Homo sapiens: one gene and its partners. The protein of the gene in region 4 binds, or shares a complex with, the protein of the main gene of each other region. Each region holds a gene or a part of one and is shown on either strand. Other genes may lie near its edges.

What was found.
Region 1: NUP188 (region 4) and NUP85 share a complex: the UniProt entries of both Homo sapiens proteins name them as parts of the nuclear pore complex.
Region 2: NUP188 (region 4) and NUP93 share a complex: the UniProt entries of both Homo sapiens proteins name them as parts of the nuclear pore complex.
Region 3: NUP188 (region 4) and NUP153 share a complex: the UniProt entries of both Homo sapiens proteins name them as parts of the nuclear pore complex.

The regions. Positions count from the first base shown.
Region 1 is NC_000017.11:75,215,677-75,222,714, forward strand, and holds part of NUP85 (nuclear pore complex protein Nup85), read left to right. Parts: intron 1-77; coding exon 78-147; intron 148-2,508; coding exon 2,509-2,630; intron 2,631-7,038. UniProt on the Homo sapiens protein: Essential component of the nuclear pore complex (NPC) that seems to be required for NPC assembly and maintenance. As part of the NPC Nup107-160 subcomplex plays a role in RNA export and in tethering NUP96/Nup98 and NUP153 to the nucleus.
Region 2 is NC_000016.10:56,845,129-56,850,786, reverse strand, and holds the end of NUP93 (nuclear pore complex protein Nup93), read right to left. Parts: 3' UTR 501-5,658; downstream 1-500. UniProt on the Homo sapiens protein: Plays a role in the nuclear pore complex (NPC) assembly and/or maintenance. May anchor nucleoporins, but not NUP153 and TPR, to the NPC. During renal development, regulates podocyte migration and proliferation through SMAD4 signaling.
Region 3 is NC_000006.12:17,626,906-17,633,943, forward strand, and holds part of NUP153 (nuclear pore complex protein Nup153), read right to left. Parts: intron 5,940-7,038; coding exon 5,745-5,939; intron 2,635-5,744; coding exon 1,750-2,634; intron 1-1,749. UniProt on the Homo sapiens protein: Component of the nuclear pore complex (NPC), a complex required for the trafficking across the nuclear envelope. Functions as a scaffolding element in the nuclear phase of the NPC essential for normal nucleocytoplasmic transport of proteins and mRNAs.
Region 4 is NC_000009.12:128,992,661-128,999,698, reverse strand, and holds part of NUP188 (nucleoporin NUP188), read right to left. Parts: intron 6,503-7,038; coding exon 6,296-6,502; intron 6,175-6,295; coding exon 6,005-6,174; exon of another isoform or gene 5,665-6,004; intron 5,327-5,664; coding exon 5,257-5,326; intron 4,844-5,256; coding exon 4,776-4,843; intron 4,381-4,775; coding exon 4,185-4,380; intron 2,836-4,184; exon of another isoform or gene 1,549-2,835; coding exon 1,471-1,548; exon of another isoform or gene 1,162-1,470; coding exon 1,076-1,161; exon of another isoform or gene 1,011-1,075; intron 528-1,010; coding exon 382-527; intron 76-381; coding exon 1-75. UniProt on the Homo sapiens protein: Component of the nuclear pore complex (NPC), a complex required for the trafficking across the nuclear envelope. Required for proper protein transport into the nucleus.

The DNA of each region.
Region 1 (7,038 bases), on a different chromosome or scaffold from region 4:
GTCTGCTTTATCCCTTGGCTCTGAGAGCAAAGCTCAGGAATCATTTCAGGTGAAACCTGTCCCCATTTCTTCCTTAGGTCTCCATTTTGTCAGCAATGGAGCTCATCTGGAACCTGTGTGAGATTCTTTTTATTGAAGTGGCCCCAGGTAGGCATGGAATATCTCACCATAATCTCATAGGTGTCCCCTTCCATCTTCTGCTCTTTCCTCATCTTTCCTGTGCATGGTGATGAGTGTTTTATTCCTGAGAATGTTCTTTCCATCATTATAACCACGGGAAGTCGTTAGAAAACACCCAAAGAAACCTGACCGTTTTGTCAGGTGCTGCAAAAAGAATCATGCAGAGTGCCTCCAAGAAACCTAAACCCTGACAAGTACTGAGAAATATTAAACTAGTGTGTGAAAGGGGGTGTCAGTGTTAACATCATGGACTGGCCAAGCTTAAGAAAGTTTTATGAATGTGGGGTAGGATTAGGTGGTGAGAGGCAAAGTCACATTGGGAATTCTGTCATGAATCATTGGGACAGGGCAACTCTGTGTGTTAACTCTGCCAATGGGTATGAACTCTGCCAATGGGAATTTTTCTGTTGATCTTTTTTTTTTTTTGAGACAGAGTTTCACTCTTGTTGCCCAGGCTGGAGTGCAATGGCGTGATCTCAGCTCACCGCAACCTCCACCTCCTGGGTTCAAGCGATTCTCCTGCCTCAACCTCCTGAGTAGCTGGGATTACAGACATGCGCTGCCACGCCTGGCTAATTTTGTATTTTTAGTGGAGATGAGGTTTCTCCATGTTGGTCAGGCTGGTCTCGAACTCCCAACCTCAGGTAATCTGCCTGCCTCGGTCTCCCAAAGTGCAGGGATTCCAGGTGTGAGCCACCGTGCCCAGCCTTCTGTTGATCTTGAATTAAACTGTGGTCAGTATAGTGTCATGGCCTGTATGAGCTCTCTGTGGATCTGCTGCAGCTTTTTTGCATTTCTTTTAAGGATTTATGTTTGCTATTTTCCATAAATGAGTAGTAACCTCTGTGTAGCCCTAGCATTTTATTCATACTCTCACTAAAGAAGTGAGGAACTTGAAATTAGAGTTGGTTGTTCAGAGGCCTCCCTTCTCCAGTGGATTTTTGAGGAGGTTACAGTTGGCTCTTTGTATCTGCAGGTTCTACATCATGGATACGGAGTGCTGGCTGTACTCTGCCATTTTATTTCATTTTATTTTTATTGATTGATTGAGACAAGTTCTCACTCTGTCACTTAGGCTGGAGTGTGGTGGTACAATCACAGCTATTGCAGTCTGGACCTCCCAGGCTCAAGCGATCCTCCTGTCTCAGCCTCCTGAGTAGCTGGGACTACAGGCACGTGCCACCATGCTAGGCTAATTTTTTGTGTGTATATGCTGGGGGAGGGGAGACAGGGTCTTGCTCTGTCACCCATGCTGGAGTACAGTGGCGTGATCACAGCTCAGAAGCCTCGACTTCCTGGGCTCAAGCAATCCTCCTGCCCAGCCTCCCAAGTAGCTGGGACCACAGGCCTGCACCACCACGCCCGGCTAATTTTTGTATTTTTTGTGGAGAGGAAATTTCGCTATGTTGCCCGGGCTGTTCTTGAACTCTTGGGCTCAAGCAGTCTGCCCATCTTGGCCTCGCAAAATGCTGGGATTATAGGCGTGAGCCACCATTCCTGGCTCGGCTAATTTTTTATTTTTTTTTGTAGAGATGGGGTCTCCCTATGTTGCCCAGCCTAGTGTCAAACTCCTGGGCTCAAGCGATCTGCCTGCCTCAGCCTCCCAAAGTGCTGGGATTACAGACATGAACTACCATGCCCGGCCATATGTTTTGTTTTGTTTTGTTTTTTGAGACAGAGTCTCACTCCGTCACCCAGGCTGGAGTGCAGTTGTGCGATCTTGGCTCACTGCAACCTCTGCCTCCTGGGTTCAAGCAATTCTGCCTTAGCCACCTGAGTAGCTGGAATTACAGGCATGCGCCACCACGCCCGGCTAATTTTTGTATTTTTAGTAGAGACAGGGTTTCACCATGTTGTCCAGGCTGGTCTTGAACTCCTGAGCTTAGATGATCCACCTGCCTTAGCCTCCGAAAGTGCTGGGATTCCAGGTGTGCACCACCAGCCCCCTGGCCCTATGTTTTTATCATCATTGCATACCTGGCTGCTTGCTATCTAGTCATTGTTGGTTCCTAAACGGCCATTACTTATGTAGCTATTAAGTATTTGTGAAGAATCTGGAGTGTGGGGTAGTGAGGTCTGCATTCCATGTTCACCCCTTTCTGGGGTCAGTTAAAGATGGAGCTGCCTGGCACAGAAGTAATATTTGGTGAAAGTGCATTTGCTTTTTCCTAGCACAGTCTGTCATTCAGGACCATGTGTGTGACTGCTTAAAAGGGATAAACCTATGTAGTCAGCTTGTCTGCCTTAAAGTTCTCTGTTCCTTGGATAAAGGAACTTGCTGCAGATGAAGCTGAGGCTTTTGTGTGTGATGAGAGTCTCTCCTCCCAGCTGGCCCTCTCCTCCTCCATCTCCTTGACTGGGTCCGGCTCCATGTGTGCGAGGTGGACAGTTTGTCGGCAGATGTTCTGGGCAGTGAGAATCCAAGCAAACATGACAGCTTCTGGAACTTGGTAAGACAGGCCGGGCCCCCACCTCCCACCATGTGTCCTACTGTCCCTGGTGCTGCCGGGTGGGTCTGAGGACACCCACTGAGCCTCCAGCAGTAGGCTGGCTTTTGGAGTCTGTTACTATGGAGACTCTTTTGGATCTTTTCTTCCCTGCTCTATGGGAGAGTCTAAAACCGAGGTACCATGTAAGAAAAATAATGCTTTGAAGACTTTTCCAGGGTAAAAGGAAATTTGATTTCTTTGTGGATCTAAGGAAGAGAAGACACAAAAAGGAATACAAAACCGTTTTTTTTTTTTTTTTTTTGAGACAGGGTCTCGGCTGGGTGCGGTGGCTCATGCCTGTAATTCCAGCCAGCACTTTGGGAGGCCAAGTCAGGAATCTCTTGAGCCCAGGAGTTTGAGATTAGCCTGGGCAACAAAGTGAGACCCTCCATCTCAAAACAAATTAATAAATAAAAATATAAAAGAGAAAAGATAGTCCGACTCTGTTCCCCAGGCTGTTGTGCAGTGGCCTGATCTTGCTCACTGCAACCTCCGCCTCCTGTGCGGTCCTACCACCTCAGCCTCTCAAGTAGCTGGGACCACAAGTGCCAACCACCATGCCTGGGTAATGATATAAAACCAATTGACAGGGGCTGGGGTGCATACAGGGTTGGATGTAAATGAGCTTGCACATTACTTTGGATCATCAGTTTCGAAGTCAGCATGTCGTATATGTGTATATGGATGTATTTTCTATGTGTTAGGTATTTCCATTCACCTCTGCTGACTGACCCAATTGGGAGGTGGCAGGGAGGAGATCGCTAGTTGACTGGGCTAATGGAAAGTCAACTAAACTTATAAAGCCTGAAATTGGGAACAGATTGTGAGGACAAAAAAAAAGAAAAGAAAAGAAAACCTGGAATTCGGCCCGGCACGGTGGCTCACAGGAAGTAGTGGGCCAAATGTTTGAGTCTCTGATTGATTCGCTAAGGTTTGTTGTTGTCGTTTAGAGACAGGGTTTCGCTTTGCGGCCTGGGCGGGAGTGCAGTGATGCGATCATGGCACAATGCACCTTTGATTTCCTGGGCTCAAGCAATCCTCCCACCTCAGCCTCCTGAGTGGCTGGGACTACAGGCGCACACCACTACGCCTGGCTAGTTTTATTTTTTGTAGAGGTGAGGTTTCACTGTATTACCCAGGCTGGTCTTGAACTCCTGGGCTCAAGCAATCCTTCCACCTTGGCCTCCCAAAGTGTTGGAACTGCAAGTGTGAGCCACCATTCCTGGTCATTCACTGAGTATTTATTGAGTCCCTACTATTTGCAAGGCACCAAGGAGACACCATGACTAAAACAGGCAAAGATTCCTGCCTTTATGGAGTTTATATCCTGTGTGTGGAGAAAGAACAGCAACACATAGGCTAGTACCATGTATCCTGGCACATAGTGAAATGCTCTGCCAAGGTGCCAAGAAGGGAGGGAGGCTGCAAGTGCTGGAGGGGCATCGAAGAAGGCCTCCCTCATGAGAGATTGGAGGTGAGACCTGAAGGAGGTGAGGAGAGCTAGGCTGAAGAAAGCATTCCAGATAGCAGGGCCTGTAGATGCTGTGTTCTAGAGCCAGGGTGGGGCAGGAGGGGCTGTGCTATGTAGGGGTAGGTGGGAGGGATGAGCTGGGGAGATAAAGACAGAGCGATACCAGGCCAGGTCTGAGACAGCCCCCTGGGCTGTCACTGAGACTTTAGCTTTTTGCAGCCTACATAGCAGGGTGACTAACAACATGGTCTGTGGTGCCACACTGCCTGGGTTAGCATTCCAGCTCTGCCTTTTACTAGCTGTGAGGTGGGTTTTTTTCCTTTTTTGAGACAGAGTCTCTCTCTGTCACCTAGGCTGGAGTGCAGTGGCGCCATCTCAGCTCACTGCGACCTCTGCCTCCGGGGTTCAAGTGATTCTTCTGCCTCAGCCTCCTGAGTAGCTGGGACTACAGGCGCGCGTCACCATGCCCAGCTAATTTTTGTATTTTTAGTAGGGATGGGGTTTTACCATATTGGCCAGGCTGGTCTCAAACTCCTGACCTTGTGATTCACCCACCTTGGCCTCCCAAAGTGCTGGGATTACCAGCATGAGCCACCATGCCTGGCCTTTTTTTTTTTTTTTAAATACAGTTTCACTGTGTTCCCCAGGCTGCAGTGCACAATCACCAGTCACTGTAGCCTTGGCCTCCAGGTCTCCAGTGGTCCTCCTACTTTAGCCTCCCAAGTAGCTGGGACCACAGACATGTGTTACCACCACCAGCTAAAGTTTTTATTTATTTATTTATTTTTTGAGATGGCGTCTTTCTCTGTTGCCCAGGCTGGAGTGCAGTGGCGCTATCTCAGTTCACTGCAACCTCTGCCTCCCTGGTTCAAGCAGTTCTGTCTCAGTCTACCAAGTAGCTGGGATTATAGGTATACGCCATGATGCCCAGCTGGTTTTTGTTTTGTTTTGTTTTGTTTTTTGTATTTTTAGTAGAGATGGGGTTTCATCATGTTGGTCAGGCTGGTCTTGAACTCCTGACCTCAAGTGATTTGCCTGCCTCCCTCCATCCCACCATCCCAATTTTTTTTTTTTTTTTTTTTTTAGCTGGAGTCTCGCTCTATTGCCCAGGCTGGAGTGCAGTGGCACGATCTCGGCTCGCTGCAAGCTCCGCCTCCCGGGTTCATGCCATTCTCCTGCCTCAGCCTCCCGAGTAGCTGGGACCACGGGCGCCTGCCACCACGCCTGGCTAATTTTTTAATTTTGTTTAGTAGAGACGGGATTTCACCATGTTAGCCAGGATGGTCTCGATCTGACCTTGTGATCTGCCTGCCTTGGCCTCCCAAAGTGGTGGGTTTACAGGCGTGAGCCGCCACGCCCGGCTAACCCAATTATTTTTTATTTTTATTTATTTATTTTTTGAGGCAGAGTCTCACTCTGTTGCCCAGGCCAGAGTGCAGTGGGGCGATCTCAGCTGGGATTATAGGCTCTCGCCATCCTGCCTGGCTCATTTTTTTATTTTTAGTAGAGATGGGGTTTTGCTGTTTTGGCCAGGCTGGTCTCGAACTCCTGACCTCAAGTGATCCGCCTGCCTCAGCCTCCCAAAGTGCTGGGATTACAGGCTTGAGCCACCATGCCCAGCCAAATTTTTTTATTTTTTGAACTCCTGGCCTCAAGCAGTCCTGTTGCCTTGGCCTCCCAAAGTATTGGGATTACAGGTGTGAGCCACTGTGCCCGGTCACTAGGTGTGAGATCTTGAGTGAGCTACTTAACGGCCTTAAGGGTCCTCATCTGTCCAGTGGAGATAATAATACCTGTCCCATGGGGCTGTTGTGATCATTAAATTAGTTAAAGGACATAAATGTGGGTGAAGTAGTTGACACGGTTGATGCACAGTAAAAGCTAGTCTTTTACTTCTAAGCCATATGGGGTGAGGGGGCATTGGAGAGCTGAGCAGAGGAAGCCTGAGATCTTACTTAGGTTCCCAAAGGCTGTCCTGGCTGCCATGTTGAGACTACAGCAAGGATGGAAACAGGCCAGTCTGGATTCTGCTGTACTAAGCCAGGTAAAAGATGGTGGTGGTGTAGGCTAGATATGTTTGAAGAGAGTTGATGGGGTTTGCTGATGGATTGATTTGATGTGGGCATGCAAGAAATAGAAGAATGTGGGAGGATAAGGTTGGTGAATTGGAGGCAAACTGGTATTTAATTTTAGACATGTTTCTCTCGTGTGTGTGTGTGTTTTGTTTTGTTTGTTTGTTTGTTTGTTTTGAGACAAAGTCTCTGTTGCCCATGTTGGAGTGCAGTGGTCAGATTACAGCTCACTGCAGCCTTGACCGCCTAAGCTCAGGTGATCCTCCCCTCCTAAGCCTCCCAAGTAGCCAGGACTACAAAGGCGTGCCACCATGTCCAACTAATTTTTGTATTTGTAGTGGAGACGGGGTTTTGCCATGTTGTCCAGGCTGGTCTCAAACTCCTGGGCCCAAGCAATCCACCCTCCTTGGCTTCCCAAAGTGTTGGGATTACAGGCGTGAGGCACCATGCCTGTCCGACATGTTACGTTTTAAGATGCCTATTCAAGATCTAAGTGGAGATGTTGACTAGGCACTTGGATATACAAAGCTGGAATTCAGACAAGGAAGTTTGGGCTAGAGAGGAAAAGTTGGGAGTTATCAGTATGTATATGTTTATATATTTGTGATTTTTTTTTTTTTTTTTTTTTTTTTTTTTGAGATAGAGTTTTGCTCTTGTTGCCCAGGCTGGAGTGCAGTGCCTTGAATACTGAATTAGTGAATATTGAACCATTGCTCCTAGGGGAAATACAGGGTTAGGTTCCTGCAAGCCTCTGGTCATATTTTGTTCAACCAATCAATATATAACCGATCACTTGTTTTATGTGTGTATCTGTTTGGAGACAACT
Region 2 (5,658 bases), on a different chromosome or scaffold from region 4:
CCAAATTCCGGCTCCCCTTCCCCAAGGCCAATACGTGGCTCTCAACCCCCATTTAAAATGCTTTCCACTGAAGGTCTAAAATAAAGGGTTACAGATCTTAGCTGTTCCTAGCCCCCAGAATGCATGCCACATGCTGGGTTTATCACCAGAATGCTTCTGACTTACTGTCCCACCACAGTCAGAATCTGACCTTTCCGGCCAAGAATTCTGAAGTTCAGGGGGAGAAAGCACAAATTCAGAGCTGGGATGGGAGTCCTGTACTTACAGAGACCTCTGGGGACTTCGCAGACCCAGGGACTGGATAGGCCTTAGGAGCCTTCTTTGCAGGGAGTGGAGAAGGGGCCTGGCTCATTAAGCCCCGAGGCCAGGTAGAGGCACTTCTGTCACCTTCTGAGGAGCCCCCAGGCTGTGCCTCAGCTAAAGATATTCCCAGGAAAGGCCTGAGAGAGGCTTCTGCTCCACTGAAGGACTGAACAAAGGGGGCACATGGCACTCTGGGAGAATATTCCAGAAATTTACTGGCTACAGACAGGGATAGTGGTGAAGGAACCATCCTAAACAGAGTAAATGCAGAAGTTACTGTACAGAAAGGAACATGCAGAACACATCCACCAACGCTCTCCCACCCTCTCCCTTCTCCCACAAGCACCACACAGAGTGACTCGAGAAAAGCAAAAAAGAAAAAAAGGAAAATAATCAGTCAACTGAAAAACGCAAAGAATTCTCCCCCACTGAGTTTCTAACACAAGTTACTGATCAAGTGAGAAAAGGCTGTACTTTGGCTCTTTCCTTTCTTTCTAAAATACACAGTATTTGAAATTCCTGGTTGAAAAACACAGTAGATGACAGCCACTGAGGTCAACTGGGGCCCACATTATCCCGCTCAGCTGCCTGCCTAGCTCTTCAAAACTGCGTATCTCAGTCATTTCCGATGCCCACAAAAGCACAAACAATGCACAAAATCAGGGTAATCCAATTCCACTAGAGAGCTCCCGGCAGCCCGTGGCAGGCCTGAAGGTCTCTGGGCAGCTAGTACCAGCAGAGGCAAGCCCAGGTAGGGCAGCCACATAGAACTGGGACATACTTACACTAGGAACTTCTTCACTGTTTATCCAAAATGCAAACTTAATTGAGTGTCCTATATTTTTATTTGCTAAGTCTGACCCGGATGAAGGGGCCTTACCTGCAGGCCATAAAGCCCCTGGGTGCCACCTGAAAGCCTGCCTAGGCCAGGTCTGCTGAGGCCACCAAAGCATATGTCCTGATGCTGAAGTCCCCTCTGGGATCACTGACTCCCCACTTCCTGTTCAAACAGAAGCCAGTGTCTGGGGCAAACTTTTTTGCCCTCCCCATCCCCAAGAAATAGAAGCTCAAGGGCAAAGGCAGCCAGGTGTACAGATTGTGCTAGCGCAGAGCTGGGTTTCTGCCAGCACCCCGTCCCTTTTTCTTTTTAAAGATCCGGCCTTCATTATTCACAGTACATCAAATTTCCACCCCCTTCTCAATGTTTCCCTGCTGCTGTGCAGCTCTGCAAGTTTCTGTCTTTGAAGGAACAGCCCTGAGTCTCATTTGATCCTGGGAGACATTATTCTCCTCCACCTTCTTTCAGACTGAATGCCTATTAAGGGCCCCCACGGTGAATCACGGAGTCTGAATCTAGGCACGTGGAGCTGATCCAGAGGATGTGGGGAGGAGCCTGGCACAGGAGGACAAAGCAAAGCATCTGCTCATTCAAATATCTGCTGAGCAATCTACTGTGGGCCAGATACCCCAGAGAGGGCACACAGGAGAAGCATATTTCAAAAACCAAGGTTAGGACAGGAAAATATCCTCTTTCCCTGGGTTAGCAACTTAGAACCACGAGTACTTCACTTAGGTGATCCTGGACAAAAAAACGAAAAAAACGAGCCTACTTTTAAAGAATTATGCACAACTCTGGGAACAAATCAGTGCTTAATTTACCTCAGATATTCCAGCTACCTAGCACGGCCCAGCACACAAAGAGGTTTTGAAATCATCTGCTGCAATGGAATCTTGGCTGATAAATACACGTGGCCTATCTAGCCAGTCACAAGTTATGTGCGTAACAAGGCAAAAAAGCAGCACAGACCACTTGAAATCTCTTTTCAGAACACTTTAGTAATTTTTAACTTTTTTCCTTTTCGGTTGGAAACAAGTGGCAGAAAGATTTATTTCCTTCCTGTCCCTGCCCTGTGAGGGATACCAATATATTATGGAACTGTCAGAAGATGGTGGAAGATGGGAAGACTTGTGGATTCAGCGTAGGATAAAGAATGGGGGATATTTTCTTCCACAGTTTAGACAACTCCTGTTTAATGAGATGCTGACTTCTTCCTGGTATTTCTGAGATGCAGGAACAAAAGCTCAATTCTGATATAAAACACACATTTCCATCAAGAATTTTATATGTAACACTTTCTCCCAATTTGCTGACACAGGGCTCAATTCCTTTCCCAGCTGACTGAGGCTAAGGGAGAGTTCGCAGTCAGTGTGGGGACTGCCAAGACTTTGTCAGGCCTGGGTCAACCCGCCAGCCCAGGGGTTCATTTTCTGACTCAGCATTCAGCATGCTCAAGTCACTTCCTGAGTGGCATGCTGGAAATTTGGCAAGTGATGTGAACCACCTAATGAACTAGACAAAGGTTCTGGTGCCTAGTAGAGAAAAAGGATAGTAGAGATCCAGTCTAAAGCAGGAAGGCGTTGGCAGAGCTGCATATAACTGCAAATTTAGTATTAAGGGTTCTGGCTAGGTGCAGGCAAGGGTAAAAATTCAAAGAGAGAAAAATCACCCTCAGGTTTTTTTTGGTCAGCAAATGCTGGACACTGCGGAAAAGTCTGTAGTTCTTTGCTTTAAAGCTGCCTGTTCTAGGATTTAAATGATGCATCAAGAGTTAACAGTGGCTGCCAAATTGTCCTTAAGAGGCTCTAATTAGACTGTAAGTTCGCGGAGGACAGGAGCTGGGTCTGCATCCTGGCCCCAGTGTAAAATGGGCACTTCCTGCTCTTTGATGAGCCCGCCCAGCTCGTGAGTGAAAAAGGAAGGCATCTGCCGTGGCAGAGCTCACCAGTTTCGCTTCAGTTTTCCCTCTGAAGTTGGGGAGTCAAAGAGTTTTTTGTTGCTGTTGTTGTTGAGCCAAAAGAAGAGAATCTGTGAAATTAAATCTCCAGGCCTCTGAAAAGGATCCAGATCAAGTCAGTACTTTCCTTTGAGTGTTTCAGTGAGTTTATTATGAGCCATTCTGAGACAGGAACAAACCCTGACAGTCTCAAAGTGCCCCCAATTTCATTAGAAAGATCGAAATCTCACATCTGGAAGACAAGACGCCTAGTGCCACTTTCTCTTAGTTTCTCTGGGTAAATAGTGAAATCCTGGCCCAACATCTAAGGAAAGAGTTAGTTCTCTGAAAAAGTGGGCTGAAGATGAGTTTTTAAGATAATAACCTGTCACAGGGTCAGGACTTCTGGGCATAAGCTGTAATGATGGGTACATGACAACCTGATGTTGTGGCCTTGCAAATTCAGCCTGTTTCTCATCTCTGCACAATTCCAGAGGCCTGTGCTCAATCGCACAATCAGCTTGTAGGACAAGAACTGGGATTTGCTCCATCCGAGTCCTGGCCCTTCTGGTATGAACCTACTTATCTTCTTTCTCCTACAAATGTCTCTCTCAGCAAGTCCTTAACTGCCAACCAGTGACCACTTTTCTCCCAACTCACAGCTCCCCTAGCAGAGCAGCTCAAGGTCTGGCTGCTTCTCTCCCTTCTCATTTTAGGACCCATCTACAGGTCAAAGAACCTCATCCCCTGGATGCAGGGCTGGTGTGCAGTTCTCTCTGAGACAAGTAGAACTGCAGGATGCAAGGAAAGGCAAATCCACGATTCTCATGGGATAGTGAAGAAGAGGTAAGCCAGGAGCAAACATGTATTTAAACAACTTGAGCCTTCTCATTTGTGGCATTGTTATATTTCTATCTGCAAGTAAAATCTAGTATTAGAAAAACAAAGCACTAAGTTGCACTTTATGAAAAGTCCACAGAGTACTCTTATTTTTATTTTTGAATCAGAGCCTCACTCCATCGCCTAGGCTGGAGTGCAGTGGCATAAGCTCGGCTCACTGCAACCTCCGCCTCTTGGGTTCAAGTGATTCTCCTGCCTCAGCCTCCCGAGTAGCTGGGATTACAGGCGCCTGCCACCATGCCCAGCTGATTTTTGTATTTTTAGTAGAAACGGGGTTTCCCCATGTTGGCCAGACTGGTCTCAAACCCCTTACCTCAAGCGAACTGCCTGCCTTGGCCTCCCAAAGTGCTGGGGTTACAGGCGTGAGCCACTGCACTCGGCCAGAGTACTCTTTATTTTTTTGAGACGGAGTATCGCTCTTTCACCCAGGCTGGAGTGCAGTGGCATGATCTCAGATCACTGCAACCTTCGCCTCCCGGGTTCAAGCAATTCTGTCTCAGCTTCCTGTGTAGCTGGGATTACAGGTGCCTGCCACCATGCCCGGCTAATTTTTGTATTTTTAGTATAGACGGGGTGTCACAATGTTGGCCAGGCTGGTCTTGAACTCCTGATCTCAGGTGATCACCTGCCTTGGCCTCCCAAAGTGCTAGGATTACAGGTGTGAGCCACCCCACCCGGCCAGGAGTACTCTTTTTTAAAAAGCACTATTAAATCATTTGATTAGCTTAAATCAGCACATATAAGCAGGGCACAACTTGCTAAATCAAGGCCTCTGCAGGGCTCATGTTTCAAGACTTTCTAGTAAAGCTCAATTGAAGACAGTCCTCCAGGGTGACAAGATGGGACTAGAGGAGGAAGGCAGAACACAGCTCCACTGACCCTCAGGCCGCATCCTTCCTGGAACATGGAATCCTACCGATAAGCAGCAGTTGGTTCCATTATCTACAGATTATTTCTTCCCAAAAGAAAAGGTAACAATTATTTTAACAACTGGGAGACAGTGGGGATGACCACACCCTGTGACAAGACAGAAACTTCTCCCTACAAGCAAAGGCACCTTTGGGGACCCTTTGGGGATCTTAACATTCTGCTGGGAAAGAGTCTACCTCAGGGAGCCGTCCATCAAACCAGCAGAGCAGACCACTGCCCACTGTCTCAAGGCTCCAGTTGGCCCATTCAGGAACAAACACGACCTAATTTGCTCTCTGGTTTAGTCTAGGGCTTTGGGACTGATGGTGGGGGAAACAGAGCAAATGATGGGTGACAACTACTGCTCAGGGAGCAAACACCCATGGTGCTGATGCCATGTGGTGGTCTGGATTCTGTACATTGCAGACTCAGCACGTGACCCATGAGCCTGCCTGGCCAATTACCTTAATGAGTGGGGAAGGGGGTCGTCTGAGCAGAGGAACTGACCACCAGAGAAGGGAAATAGGGGCTTAAACGTCTTTCTAGGAGGGGTGTGTACAAGGCCGAGCAGTCAACTCACAGTGGAGCAGCTACAGAGGAGTGCAGTGGCAAGGTTTACCCCTTCCTCAAGTGCAAGCTGGGGGCACTTGCAACCTTCCTTCTTAAGGCTTTTTCTAGGTCTATGCTTTTATCTCCACTGGGATTGCAACAGAACGGCAAACTGATGAATCCTGCAATCAGAGCTGATGATTTGGGGGATGGTCTTGGACCA
Region 3 (7,038 bases), on a different chromosome or scaffold from region 4:
TTCTTTTAGTTATTTGGCATGTTACAAGTTCTGCTGCTTTTATAAAATACAAGTTAGAAATGTTAGGAAAAACAAATGAGACATGCTGATTTGAAGAAAAACTTTTGATTTTTATATGGTGATTCTGAATCCAGCCACCTTATTGAAGATTTTTTTCTAAACTATTCCAATAATCTCTCAGTTCCAATACCGCACACTATCCAGGGCTGGTCACAGTACACTATGGGCATTAGTATGACTTACAGAAAATGGAACATGTTGGCTTACTTTCAACCTGGCTAATGGAAGAATGGTTAAGAGTGTCTACCATAGCCTGGTGTTTTCATCATCAAATCTGATTAGACCCTATCATGTTTTTGTTGCTTTCCAAATAATATGTAATTTTAGTTTTGATTTTGTCTTTATATTTCTAAGTAAATATATAACAGACAAAAAACTGCTCATAGCTATTTGTTGAATTCCATACTTTTTAAAGGTTAATTTTGAGTGTTTCCAATTTATTATTCAAAAGTATTCATGGATATTCAACTTTTGCATTTTTTGCACATCTAAAAACATCTGTATTTTGCCTTTGTGTTGGTGTTTTTTTGTTGTTGTTGGGTTTTCTTGAGACAGAGCCTTGTTCTGTTGCCCAAGCTGGAGTGCACTGGGCCAATCTCTGCTCACTGCCACCTCCGCCTCCCAGGTTCAAGAGATTCTTGTGCTTCAGCCTCCCGACTAGTTGGGATTATAGGTGTGAGCTACGGCACCCGGATTGTCTTTATATTTAAACACATTTGGCTAGTAACAGAATTCTAGGTTCAAGAACATTTTCACTTTAAGGGCACTGTTGTTTTTAGCATGTGATGTTACAAATTAGAAGATGATGCTAATCTGATACCTGCCTATTTGTGGCAAATAGCTTTTCTCTCTGAAAGCATTTGGGGTTTTAGCTTTGGTGTCCTAAATTTCAGTGATCTTTGCCAATAGGTAATTTCCATTTTTAAGACCAATGTCTTTCTTTAGATCTAGAAAATTTTCTTCTGTCACTTCTTTGATATTTCCCCAAAACTTCTTATCTTCTAGGCCACTCCTATCCCAAAGGAACTTGTGGATCTAACTTGGATCACTCTTTGTACTGGTGCACTAAGTTTGGGGAAATTCTAGTTCACTAATCTGATTATCAGCTATGAAGTTCTTCCTGCTATTCAGCTCACAGAATGACTTTAATAGGATCCACCAACAATCATGCTTTTAACCTTTAAGGTGCTATGTCATTTTTTTCCCCAGGACTTCAGCTTTCAAAATCTCTTGTTTTCTCAGGATTAATTATATTTGTTGTCTATGTTTCTTAATGTTTGATGAGGACTGGTTATCTGTAACTATTTGTAAATAAAGGCCTTCCCATAGATTATGGTAGAAAATACTTCATAAGCTAAGAATCCTTATTTTCCAGGTAGTAGATACCAATTCTGATTATAAAAGCCCAAACAGAAGAGAAAGACACACATAAATATGCACTATATTGAGCTTTGCATTACTGCTGTATTTCTCAAAATTAGATCCACAGATGACTTCACCAGAATCATGAGGGTTTTAAAGAGCAGTTCAAACTGAAAATCCTAGGTTCCTTCCCAAAGAGTTCTGTATTTCTCAACTATGTTCAGTGTAAACCATTAATTGACTTGCTGCATCTGTCAAGGCAACTTGTAAAACGACAACTTGTAAAAAAAAAAATAATAATAATAATAATAAAAAGTTAATACTTACCAGCTGTAGTACTAGTTTGAGCTCCAAAGGCAAAAGTGGCTTTTGCTGGCTGTTCAGATTCCTTCTCAGATGGTTTTGTCATACTAAAACTAAATGTGGACTTTGAAGAATTCTCATCTTTGGTTTGCTCTGAATTCCCAAAGGAAAACACTGGTTGACACTTTGGCTCTTCATTGTCAGCTTTCTTCCCAAAAACTAGGGAAGTAGAAGTGACAGGCTCTTGCTGTTTCTCTTCTGTCCTTCCCAAAACAAACACTGAGGCAGATGGCAGAGAGGCAGGCTCCACGTTGCCAAAAGAGAATCCTCCTTTGGTGGCAGGCATTTCTTCTTTTTTAGCTTCTGATGTCTTACATGTGAAAGGAGCCACTGAAGCACTCTTGGTTTCTATGGTTCCAAGGTTGAAGCTGCTCTTGTTCTCAGAGGTCACTATGGTGTTAGCAGGAGCAGGGGTGGAGTTAATAACACCTGTACCAAAGCTAAAACCTGCAGAGGAAGATTTGGGCAGTTCCTCTTTCTTTTCTTCCTGTCCAAGATTAGATACCCCAAATTGAAATGGAGTTAAAGAAACTGGGTTGCTTAAACCAGAAGAAAGTCCAAACTTAAAATTATCATTCTTACTATCTTTTTTAACTTCTTCGGGCTTAGATTCAGATGAAACTCCAAATTTAAAATCTCCTATTGGTTTAGAAAATTTAAAGCCTTCACTCATGGGGTTTATAGACCCAGAATCGGATGACACACCTATTTTGAATCCTCCCTGATCTCCAAATTTAAAATTTCCAGTGCTTGTTAAAGTCTGAGAAGGCCCAGAAGAGGATGATGAGACACCAAATTTGAAGGATGAGGAGGCTGCTGAGTTCGAAGATGAGGAAGATGTGTCAAAGCCTACAAAAATATAAAAGACACCACATAGACACTCAATGTACTGATCCTCTCAAACAAAATGTAAACACTGTGAAAGCCAAAGAAACATAGGAGTAACTTTGAAAGGGCCTACTTTGAAGAGTATTACCAGCAGCTGTAAACATAATCCAAGGTGACCTATATTTAGTCGGTATGAGAATGATATCTCAATCCTCACAACTATCCTGACAAGCCACTTTTCATTTATCAGACTGGCTGCGATAAAGTTTGATAAAGTTTGTACTAGTGATGAGACTGGAAGTAACAGGCTACACATTGCAGGTGGGTGTATAAATGAACACAAAACTCATAGAGAGCAATCTGTCAATAGTTACCGAAAATTACAAATGCATATACCCTTTGACCTTGCAATTCTATAGCTGGAGTTTGTTTTAAAGATAAACTCATAGACATGCAAAATGCCATATGCAATCCAGGCAGCTATAAACGAAGAAGGAAGAACAAAGATGTGTCCAAGATAATCCCTGATAAAATCAAAGGGGCAGAAAGGGAGTGCGGTATACAGACTTTTCTAACAAGGTAAAAGGAAGTAAGAATATATAGGGGTATGTATGTTTGCCTTGGATGGGCATAAAGAAACTTTGAAAGATTTACAAGAAACTAACCACAGTTACATTTGGAAGTGGGAGGGAAGGTGGAAAAAGAGACAATGGAGAGAAGAGATTGAACCTTGTCACAATTTCTTGATTTTTAAATCTTGTGAATAAATGTGTTATTCACTCAAGCATTTAAAAAAGGAAGGCAACAGAAAAACAGAAGAATTACAGAGTTGAAGCAATGTTTATAAAGTTAAACATCAGACTGGGCGTGGTAGCTCACGCTTGGAATCCCAGCACTTTGGGAGGCCAAGGCGGGCAGATCACCCGAGGTCAGGAGTTCAAGACCAGCCTGGCCAACATGGCGAAACCCCATCTCTACTAAAAATACAAAAAAAATCAGCCAGGCATGGTGGTCTGTGCCTGTAGTCTCAGCTGCTTGAGAGGCTGAGGCAGGAGAATTGCTTGAGCCCGGGAGGTAGAAGTTGCAGTGAGCCAAGATTGCGCCACAGCACTCCAGCCCGGTCAACAGTGAGACTCCACTTCAAAATAAATAAAGAAAAGAAAACAGAGGAGAGCAGAGGAGACGGGAGACGAGAGGGGAGGGGAGACAAGAGGGGAGAGGGGAGGGGAGAAGGGAGGGGAGAGGGGAGAGGGGAGAGGAGAGAAGAGAGAAGACAGGAGAGAAGAGAGAGGAGAGAAGAGAAAAGAGAAGAGAGCAAGCATTATACTGACAAGATCAAAGTCTTGGTTTCATAATGCTTTTCTGCAGCTAAGGAAATCAGAAATGAAGTACTTGACCTACTGGCTCAAAACAAGGATCATTAAGAAGTACTAAGATACTTAAAAGTATGGTGATTACCACACTACAGGTAGAGAACAGTATAAAAAGGGGAGCATGAATTAACAGCTACAGAAAGAGATAAAATGAACCAGAAAGCACAAACTTCTAAAACACTTAAATGCAGTGTTTTTCAAACTGCTAGTTGTATACCATTAATCATCAATTAATTTAGCAGGCTGCAACCAGCACTTCTCTTTTAAAATAAAATAAAACAGAAAATACCAGGGAACCTTACACCTACCAGAGGCAAGTATTATTTTGCAAAACAGATTTCAATCATATAGACATATACGCTGTGCAGGTGATGGCTCACAATATAAAAGGTTTATTCCTGACTTTTGGTTTGCAATCAAGAGTTTGAAAGCTAATTACAAAGTAGATAAAGCTTGCTATTATTTTTGTTTAATTTGTATAAATTTAAGGATTACCAGTGCAATTTTGTTACATGGATATGTTGCCTGGCAGTGAAGTTTGGGCTTTTAGTATATTCATCACCCAAATAATGTACATTGTGCCCATTAATTAATTTCTCATCATCTACCCCCCATCCCATCCTCTCACCGTTCTAGGGGTCTACACTCTGTCCACTGAGTACACTTTATTTAGCTACAACTTATAAGTAAGAAGATGAAATATCTGTCTGAGTTGTTTCAAGACATTAATCCTCACACATTTTCTCCTTGCGGGCTTACTCTTTTACAGAAGACTTGAAAAATCTGGCCTCCAGACCAGGCGTGTTGGCTCACGCCTGTAATCCCAGCACTTTGGGAGGCCGAGGCGGGTGGATCACGAAGTCAGGAGATTGAGACCATCCTGGCTAACATGGTGAAACCCCCGTCTCTACTAAAAACACAAAAAATTAGCTAGGCGTGGTGGCAGGTTCCTGTAGTCCCAGCTACTCGGGAGGCTGAAGCAGGAGAATGGCATGAACCCAGGAGGCGGAGCTTGCAGTGAGCAGAGATCGGCCACTGCACTCCGGCCTGGGCGACAGAGCAAGACACCATCTCAAAAAAAACACAAAAATCTGGCCTCCAGTTAGTTTAGGATTAATTACTTTGAGGGAGTCTTCCTTTGTACTTATATAGTAAAATATTAAGAGTTCTTTTCCTGGGACCTACTTTGGGAAACCAAAGCCACAGCCTGTATCGCTTTTAATTTAGAGGTGTATTCCCAGTCAAATAAAAGTCAGTAAGTTCATCTGGGCGCGGTGGCTCACACCTGTAATCCCAGCTACTTGGGAGGCTGAGGCAGGGAATTGCTTGAACCTGGGAGGCGGAGATTGCAGTGAGCAGAGATCGCGCCCCCGTACTCCAGCCTGGGCAAAAGAACAAAACTGTCTCAAAAACAAACAAACAAACAAACAAAAAAACAAACAAACAAAAAAACAAAGAACAGTTCACCTAGGGGGCTAGCAGTTAAAAACAAAAAACAAAAACTCTCTGAGGCTCAATGACACAAGAAATTTTTTTTCCCACCTGGAGAAAAGATACCTCACTGTTGACAAGCAACTAATATGACCTTACAATATTCAGAAACAGATATAACTAAAACATCTCAGGATAATCTCATTTTATATTAATTTTCAAGAGAGAATGAGTGAACACTGAAGCTGTTCTCAAATACTTCATTTTTAAATGGCCTTACAAAAAGGCGCTTTACCATCACCTTTATTTTTATTTTTTTGGCCTTACCTTTAAACCCAGATTTTGTGCCTGGCTTTGCACTTTCACATGCCAAACATTTGGTAGAGTCTGCCTTATTCTGCACTAGGCACAATTCACAGTCCCAGCTTCCCTCGGGTTTCTTGAACTTTTCCAATCCTAGAGAGCCTCCAGAAGGCAGAGAGACAGGTACAGTGCTGCTACTTGAAGCAGGTACTGAACTTCCTAAAAAAAAAAAAAAAAACGGGGAGTGGGGGGAGATTTCATGAAAATTTTAATTTACAGTATGTCAGTATCTTAATGGCACTGCTAAGTTTAAGTGTTCAGTTTCTAATAATATTTCCTATTAAAACACAGAATGTGCCAGAAATAGACAACTGTTCATATTTACATTGTTTAAAAAAAAGAATAGACCTCTCTTTTAACCTTATAAATGATTTCTTTTAACCTTATAAATGAGCAGCTCATAATCACCTTGCTCACTGGTGAGCTCCCCCTTAACCACATGTTTGAACTGCTGTGGTTTAAGAAAAAAAATCATGCTCGCAAATTAGGGGCTCAAAGACTAAATTTTTCTTAAGAATCTTTTTCAAATTTCTTCAAAGCAGCAAGCATTCTAAGACATAAGATGTAAATTGTAGGCAATATCCTAACATATAAAATACACAGCCACAGACCATATGAATTTCAAGATTTGAAAGCATAGATCTCTGCCTCTGAATGATAGCTTTTGCACAGAAGTGCATCTACTTCACATCCACTTCACAATCTAACTTGACACCTACTACATTCCTGACATTTGTTACATGCTAGCCATTTAACAGACATTTATTAAGCATCATAATATACTTGGGTTCTGGGGACATTAAAGATGAATAAAATGTTGCTTAACTTGTAAGATGCTCATGGTCTTAAAGGGGGAAAATAAAAGCACAGTGGCACCATCACCAAGTGACAACCTAAAACAAGTGTGCAAAGAAGGAAGAAATGACTAAGAGGCAGGAAAAGGATACACAGAGGTGACAAATCTTAAGCAAAACTAGCATGTTTGTGGGAGAGGTGGCACAGGAAGAACGGCTTGGTAAGGCCCAAAATATAGTGCTGACAGTGAAGCCATTCATTCTGGTATTCCTACTTCTCTAGATGGCCTACAACTGTCGCCACCTCTTCCATAGTTACCTAACTGATCTCTACATTTTATAGGTATGTTCTCTTCCATCTTGCCAACCAAATTGCTCCCTGGGGTTCCATCTTGGCCCACTGTCCTCACAAACTCTCATTTACTCCAGTGGTTTTTAAATCCCCAAAAAACAGTTTCCTAATC
Region 4 (7,038 bases):
AGAGTGCAATCACTTCCTCTTGGAGGGTCTCACAGACATTCAGCACCAGCTGGGAGTACTGGGGGATGTCACTTACTGTAGAATAGACAGGGAGGGACACTGTCATGCTCACCAGGCCAACTCTCACTGTACACCAAGGTTTCCTTCCTAGGAAGGGGCTGGAGATGTACTAGGGCGCTAGGAGGGACAGCATCTGTCCAGTGGGAGAGGAGGGAGAGACACATGAGGGAAAAAAATAGCTTTCTTGGGGTAAGAATTCCATGACTGGAAACTCAAAAGTCCCAGAAGAAATGTGTGGCCCTAAGCTGAAGGAAGCCCTGCCTGGCTGTCAGCAGGAGTGGGCAGACTGCAGCTGCTGCTCCCCCTGCCTCTGCCCCTCACCTTTCATCTCCTTCATTTGCAACACTGTGATGAATGCTGAGAACACCTTGGCCTTGGTCTTCTCCATGAGTTGCTGGTCGGCCTGCAGCACTCCCTCCAGGATCTCCGTCAAGGGTCCAAGGATTTCATCCACAGAACCTAACTCTCTAGAAAGAATACTGGGTGGGCCAGGCGTGGTGGCTCATGCCTGTAATCCTAGCACTTTGGGAGGCCAAGGCGGGTGGATCACCTGAGGTCAGGAGTTCGAGACCAGCCTGGCCAACATGGTGAAACCCTGTCTCTACTAAAAATACAAAAATTAGGCATGGTAGCGCGCACCCGTAATCCCAGCTACTAGGGAGGTTGAGGCACGAGAATCACTTGAACCTGGGAGGTGGAGGTTGCAGTGAGCCGAGATCGCGCCACTGCACTCCAGCCTGGGCGACAGAGTGAGACTCCGTCTCAAAAAAAAAAAAAAAAAAGAATACGGGGTGGGGAGTGAGACAAAATACCTCATAAAAGGCCACACACTGCCCCTGCTCCATCTCAGGATATCCACCAGTCTGCCTCACCCTCCTATCTGCTATGTCACTCCCATTCCTCAAGATGGAAAACCAGCCCAGCTTCCACCCACTATTTCTCCCTTTCAGGAAGGCAAGCAGGCACTGACAAGAAGGCTCTGGCCTCGGGCTTGCCTCTCCTGGCACAGCCTCACCTCTTCCACTGCCGGAGGAGGATAAGCAGCAGAGTGCACTTCATGGAGCCAAGGCGAAGGCAGTTCACTGAGGCTGGAACTAGGAGCTGAAAGGAGACAGCACACCAGTCAGAAGTCAGTGGAAAGATTCGCATGCCATCCACAGGGCACCTCCGGCCTCATTGCCTTTCTTCCCCAGCAGTGAGCTCACAGGAGTGGAGTGGAGGGGGAGAAGCCAGGGTTGGCATGGCAGCAGCAGAGCTCTGCTGACCCACTACAGTCTCAGGCCTCCCAGGCCAACGTGAGCCCTGTGACCTGACTATTTGTGCGGCTGGCTGGCAGACTCATGACCTCTGCTATTTGACTTCAAAGACAACCTCCCTGGGAGAAATGTAAAATCTCCCAGACACACTTACTAATGCTTTGGTTCCATCAAGCACGTCAAGAAAGAGCTGGCGACGCACCACAGAGTCAGTCAGGTGCATTATATCTGCCTGCAAAGGAACAGAAAAAGGTTTCAGCTGGGAAAATTTTCCAGATTTTAGAGGCCAAGAAACATGGGGTCCTCTGCTAGGCAATTAGTCATTGGTAAAACAGTCTCCCTGATTTAAAATAGGGCTTATATAGGCCGGGCGTGGTGGCTCATGCCTGTAATCCTAACACTTTGGGAGGCTGAGGTGGGCGGATCACGAGGTCAGGAGATCAAGACCATCCTGGCCAACACGGTGGAACCCTGTCTCTACTAAAAATACAAAAATTAGCCAGGCATGGTGGCGCGCACCTGTAGTCCCAGCTACTCGGGAGGCTGAGGCAGGAGAATTGCTTGAACCCAGGAAGCGGAGGCTGCAGTGAGCCGAGATCGCACCACTGCACTCCAGCCTGGCGACAGAGAGAGACTCCGTCTTAAATAAATAAATAAAATAAAATAGGGCTTATAGTCTGGGCAACATGATGAGACCCTATCTCAACAACAACAAAAAATGTTTAATTAGCTGGGTATGGTGGTGCATGCCTGTAGTCCTAGTTACTTGGGAGGCTGAGGTGGGAAGATCACGTGAGCCCTGGAGGTTGAGGCTGCAGTGAGCCATGATTGCACCACTGCACTCCAACCTGATCAACATAGTGAGATCCTGTTCCCTAAAAAATAAAGTAAAATAGGGCTTGAAGGCCCTGCTGTTCTTCTGTCAACCCTTAGATATGGTCAGAATCAAGCCCAGGTTCACCTCCTCTTTGAGACTCTGTCCTCCCTCTGCTTAGAATCCTTGAAAGGCTTCCCAGTGCCCGGGAAACGCAAACCAAGCTCTTCAACATGGTCCAAAGACCCCACAGGATCTGGTCCAACTGATGTAGTATCAGTCCCATCTGTGCTCACTCTAGTCCAACCCTGCTTGCCTCTTTCATGAACATATCAAGCTCTTTTCCACTGCTGGAACTTTGCACTTGCAAGTCCATCTGCCTAGACTTCTCTCCTCCACGGGCTCCACCTGGAAGGCTTCTTCACACATTCAGCTCTCAGCTGGGACATCACCACTCAGAGAAGGCCACCCTGACTACTTCTATCTCATGTGTTCATTACCACAGCACTTTAATTATTTCCTTCACAGCAAATTATCACTATCTGAAACCATATTTTTTATTGCTAAATTTGTTTATAATTTACCTCCTCCATCATAGGGCACTCTCTATGCGATCAAAGATCTTATCTGCCTTATTCACTGCTGCATCTCAATGCCTGGAAGCGTTCCACTAATGCCATTAAGAGAATGAATGGGTGACCAACATCCTGGACTTAGGTTTCTTTCTCTTTTTTTTTCTTTTCTTTTGTATAGGTAGACAGGTGAGACAGAGAGCCAGATAGGTTTCCTTTGGGGAAAGAGGATGGTGGGATTTTCAGAGCTACAATTCAAGAACTGCTGCCTAACTAGGGCCTAAAAGGCAGGTGACATAAAGGTTATACCCTGGGGAATCAACCATTCTCAAAGACAGGTGAGCCTTTAAGTGTGTTTGGAGCCTTAGGGGTCCAAAACCACCATGCCACAGCAAGAGTAGCCACAAACCTGCCCCTCCTAGGCTCAAAGCTCCAAGCATGTGGGCAGTCTGGCACTAGGCAACAAATTTCACAGATGTAGGAGGTGCTTGGAAAAAGGAGGCATCTATCAAGCTGAAGTTGTTCATGAAGTCAAAAGATTAATCTGGGCCAAGCGTGGTGGCTCACACCTGTAATCCCAGCACTTTGGGAGGCCGAGGTGGGTGGATCACCTGAGGTCAGGAGTTCGAGACCAGCCTGACCAACAAGGTGAAACCCCATCTCTACGAAAAATACAAAAATTAGCTGGGCGTGGTGGCAGGCACCTATAATCCCAGCTACCTGGGAGGCTGAGACAGGAGAATTCCTTGAACCCGGAAGGCGGAGGTTGCAGTAAGCCAAGATCGCACCACTGCATTCCAGCCTGGGTGACGGAGCAAGACTCCGTCTCAAGAAAAAAAAAAAAAAATTAATCTGGATACCCCAAGAAAGAACACTTCAATACCAAGTCCTTATGATACAGCGTGACGGAGTCAAACCACAAAAAAGCCAAGAACAATGCATTTCTTCCAGATGTTATCTCTCTCTCTCAAAACCAACTCCCAGTAGACAGAGTACAGAGACAATGGCCTCTGTTCTTTTTCTAAGACCAGGAAATGCAGTTTCTAGAACCAATGACAAACTGCTTTTTAGAGAGGGTGCTGCTGCAGCTGTCACAGCTCCCTGCTGACTAGTCAACAAGTATTTATTGACCTAGCATCTACAAGGTACACAGCACGAGAAGACAGTTATGCCTTTGCACAAGAGGCAGATGCAGCCAGGGAGCAGCTAAGACCCAGCCAAGGCCTAAGGGAGGTACAGGAGGCTTTAGGAACTCTGAAAGGATTTCAAATCACTTCTCTGCATTCCTCTTAATGGTCTCCTGGACCCAACACCCTCAAATACCCCACAGTCCCAATCTCTCAGCATAGAACCTATTACAGTTTAGCTCTCAGGGATAAACCCTGATTAATTCTTCCGCACAAGGAGCTGTATCTGCTAGGCTCATGTCAACACATCATTGCTAAGGTACCAAAGTGAAAACTCTCCCCAAAAGGGTCTTACATGAGTGGTGGCAATGATGAGAAGCATCCTCCAGGCGGACACCAGCATCTGGTACTCTAACAAGGAGGTGCAGCTGCTGCCTTCTGTTTCGGCCACGTGAACTGCCAATGACTTGACATACCCTGACCAGTAGGCAAAGCGTTTCTCGATGGAAAATTTCTTCAGTGTATCCTTTAATGACTGGTCTAATGAACCCCTACAGTGTCAAGAAAAAACCTCCAGTTAGATTTTGAAAGCAGATGGGAATATAATGGGTACAGACCCTTGTTGAGGCAGAGAAAACGACCTTGCATGGGCTTAAAGGCAGACGGCTCCAGGACACCTCCAACGTGTGGGTTAGGCTGAGGCCTTTCCAGGATTCCTCCTCCATAAAATCCCAGTTGCATGGAGTTTGCTTCACAATAACTCTTTCTGACAATCATAAATGCCATCGGTGGATTGGCCAGGAACACAGCTCACTGGCCTTCCATGAATGGTTCCAAACCAGTTCTCTCCTCTGCCTTGGCTCTTCCAGCCATGCACCCAGTGGTAGGCCACCAACTCCCACTCCCCCAACCTTCAGTTAAAATCTCAAGAGGGGAAAGTACTCACTTTACTACATAGTATATCTCCAAGCAAATTATCTTCATGATTAGGGCACAGGTTTCCAGGATGCTGGGCTGTGGAGATAGCAGAACAGGCAATTATCACATCTCTGATCACTGATCTCCCCCAGTATATCAAACAGGGAACAGAGCAGGGGCCCAACACTTGCAGAACAAGTTAGCACAACCCCTGTTGAATGTGAATGTCCTGACTTGCAAGAGCAGAGGCGTCAGGTCCACAACGTCTCCAACTGAATGGAGAAGACCACAGAGCCACCAACACACAGTAGCGCAAACCACTTTCCTTCCCAAAGCAAGACATCAAAGGGACAGAAAGCTGGCACTTCCCTGAGAAAGACGTTTCTAGTGAAGGGAACATTCTGTTGTTTAATTAGGGGAGGTATCATTGTCTACGGCCCCATCTCACAGCCCACAGCCTTTCCTCCAAGGGACTTGTAGCCACCATCCTGCCCTCTGCCACAGCTTACCTCTGATGTTTCAGAGGGAGGAGAAAGGGTTCCAAACAGCGGACTGGTTAAATTTTCCCAAAACTTGGGTCTAAAAAGGAAATAAATGTTTGAAATCATAACTTTTTCCCTCTCACAGTCATTTTCTCCTCTCTCAAGCTCCCTTTGGTGGTCACTTCATATTTTACCAGTCTCAATCCTAATATGTGTCTGATAAGTCAGTTGTTCCCGTATAAATGAAAGGTTTCCATAGATAAAATTACATTTTCCTCTCATGAATCACACTTATGCATTATAGAGTTGATCAATAAAAACTCTTCAAGATTCCTTCCACTGTAGATTCCCAAAAGCCCCACAGAAGAGGAGGGAGGGAAATAAGACAGCAGACTCCCAAATTTAGCCTTTTAACACTCCTTCCCTTTGTGCCAGCAGGTCCAATAGAACGGAATGTTTCATTCAATCCAGTGACTTGAGCAAGCGCCTCTCTCCTGAATCTACTGTTTCTCAAGAATAATGAGTTTTGATGCAGCTAGTTAGCAAAAGGCAGGAACACAAAAGCAACTGAACCTTCCAGGTGCTTAATATTTAAAGATCCTTAATACTTGCAGCAGCATTAGAAAGAGAATTAGTGTAAAACTCCCAGGTATTGAACCAGGACTAAGCACTCTTATTCCCAGTGAACTGTCACAACAAACCTCTGGGATAAGAGCTATTATTACTCCCATTTTATAGACCAGAACAATGAAACTACTCCCAGAGGCAGACTTACTTGGTTCGGAGGACCAGCATGGCACTGTCCCTCCGATCCTGCCACAGAGCATGCAAAAAGGCAATGGCGGCACGATGCAGCAGGGGTGGGCACCAGTATCGATCTTGCTGTTGGGAATCAATCAGCTCCAGCACTGCATGGAGACAGCTCCACATCCCAAGGCTGAATTCCTGCAAGAAGGGACAGGTAAGAGTTCAGTTCCACAGCCACTGCCAGCAGCTGTACTTGCAGAGCCCAGCATCTGCCTCCCAGTGAGCCAACTCCCAGTGTCATCCCAGGTTACAGGCTTACCTTTGAGCCATCACTGCCATCCTTAACTTCCAGGTTCAGAAACAGTTCGATGAGGCCTGGCTGGGTCTCTACTGCAACAGTGAGGAACTCTAGAATCATGACTTTGATGCGCATGTCCTCAATTTTGCTCTGCAATCGGGTCAGGAAGGCATCACGAATGGCAGCCGCATCATTGCCCAGACAAGCATACACTGACATTGGGGCCACCTGGTGGAGACCGGAACACACAGGCTTAGAGCTCTGCTTCCACAAAAACCTCAATGGGCTCCCACAGAAGGGCACTGAAGAGCTCCCAGAAAATTGGCAGAAAGGGAAGCATCCAGACTACAGCTCTGGGCTAAAAGGGACATCACCACAAACAAGCATGAGATGCCCGCAAATTCACAGGAAAGACAGTAATCAGTATAAAGAAATGCTCAACTTCCCTCATGGTTAAATAAATACAAACTGAAAAGTGAAACATTTTTTTGCTTATTAGATTGGCAAAGACTAAACAATGATGAAGACCTTGCAGCAACGATAGAATACTTGGTGTTATAAGTATAAACTGTTACAATGTTTTTTGGAAGGTAATTTGGAAATATCTAATAAAAAATATCATGTTCATTTATACCTACATAAATCTTTGGAACTGTAAACAAATGTTTACAGGGTGGTAGGGATAATAATGTTCACTGCAGCACTGCTTGTAATAGTGAAAGACAGAAAGTAGCGCAAATAAATCAGGATGCATCCATTCTAGG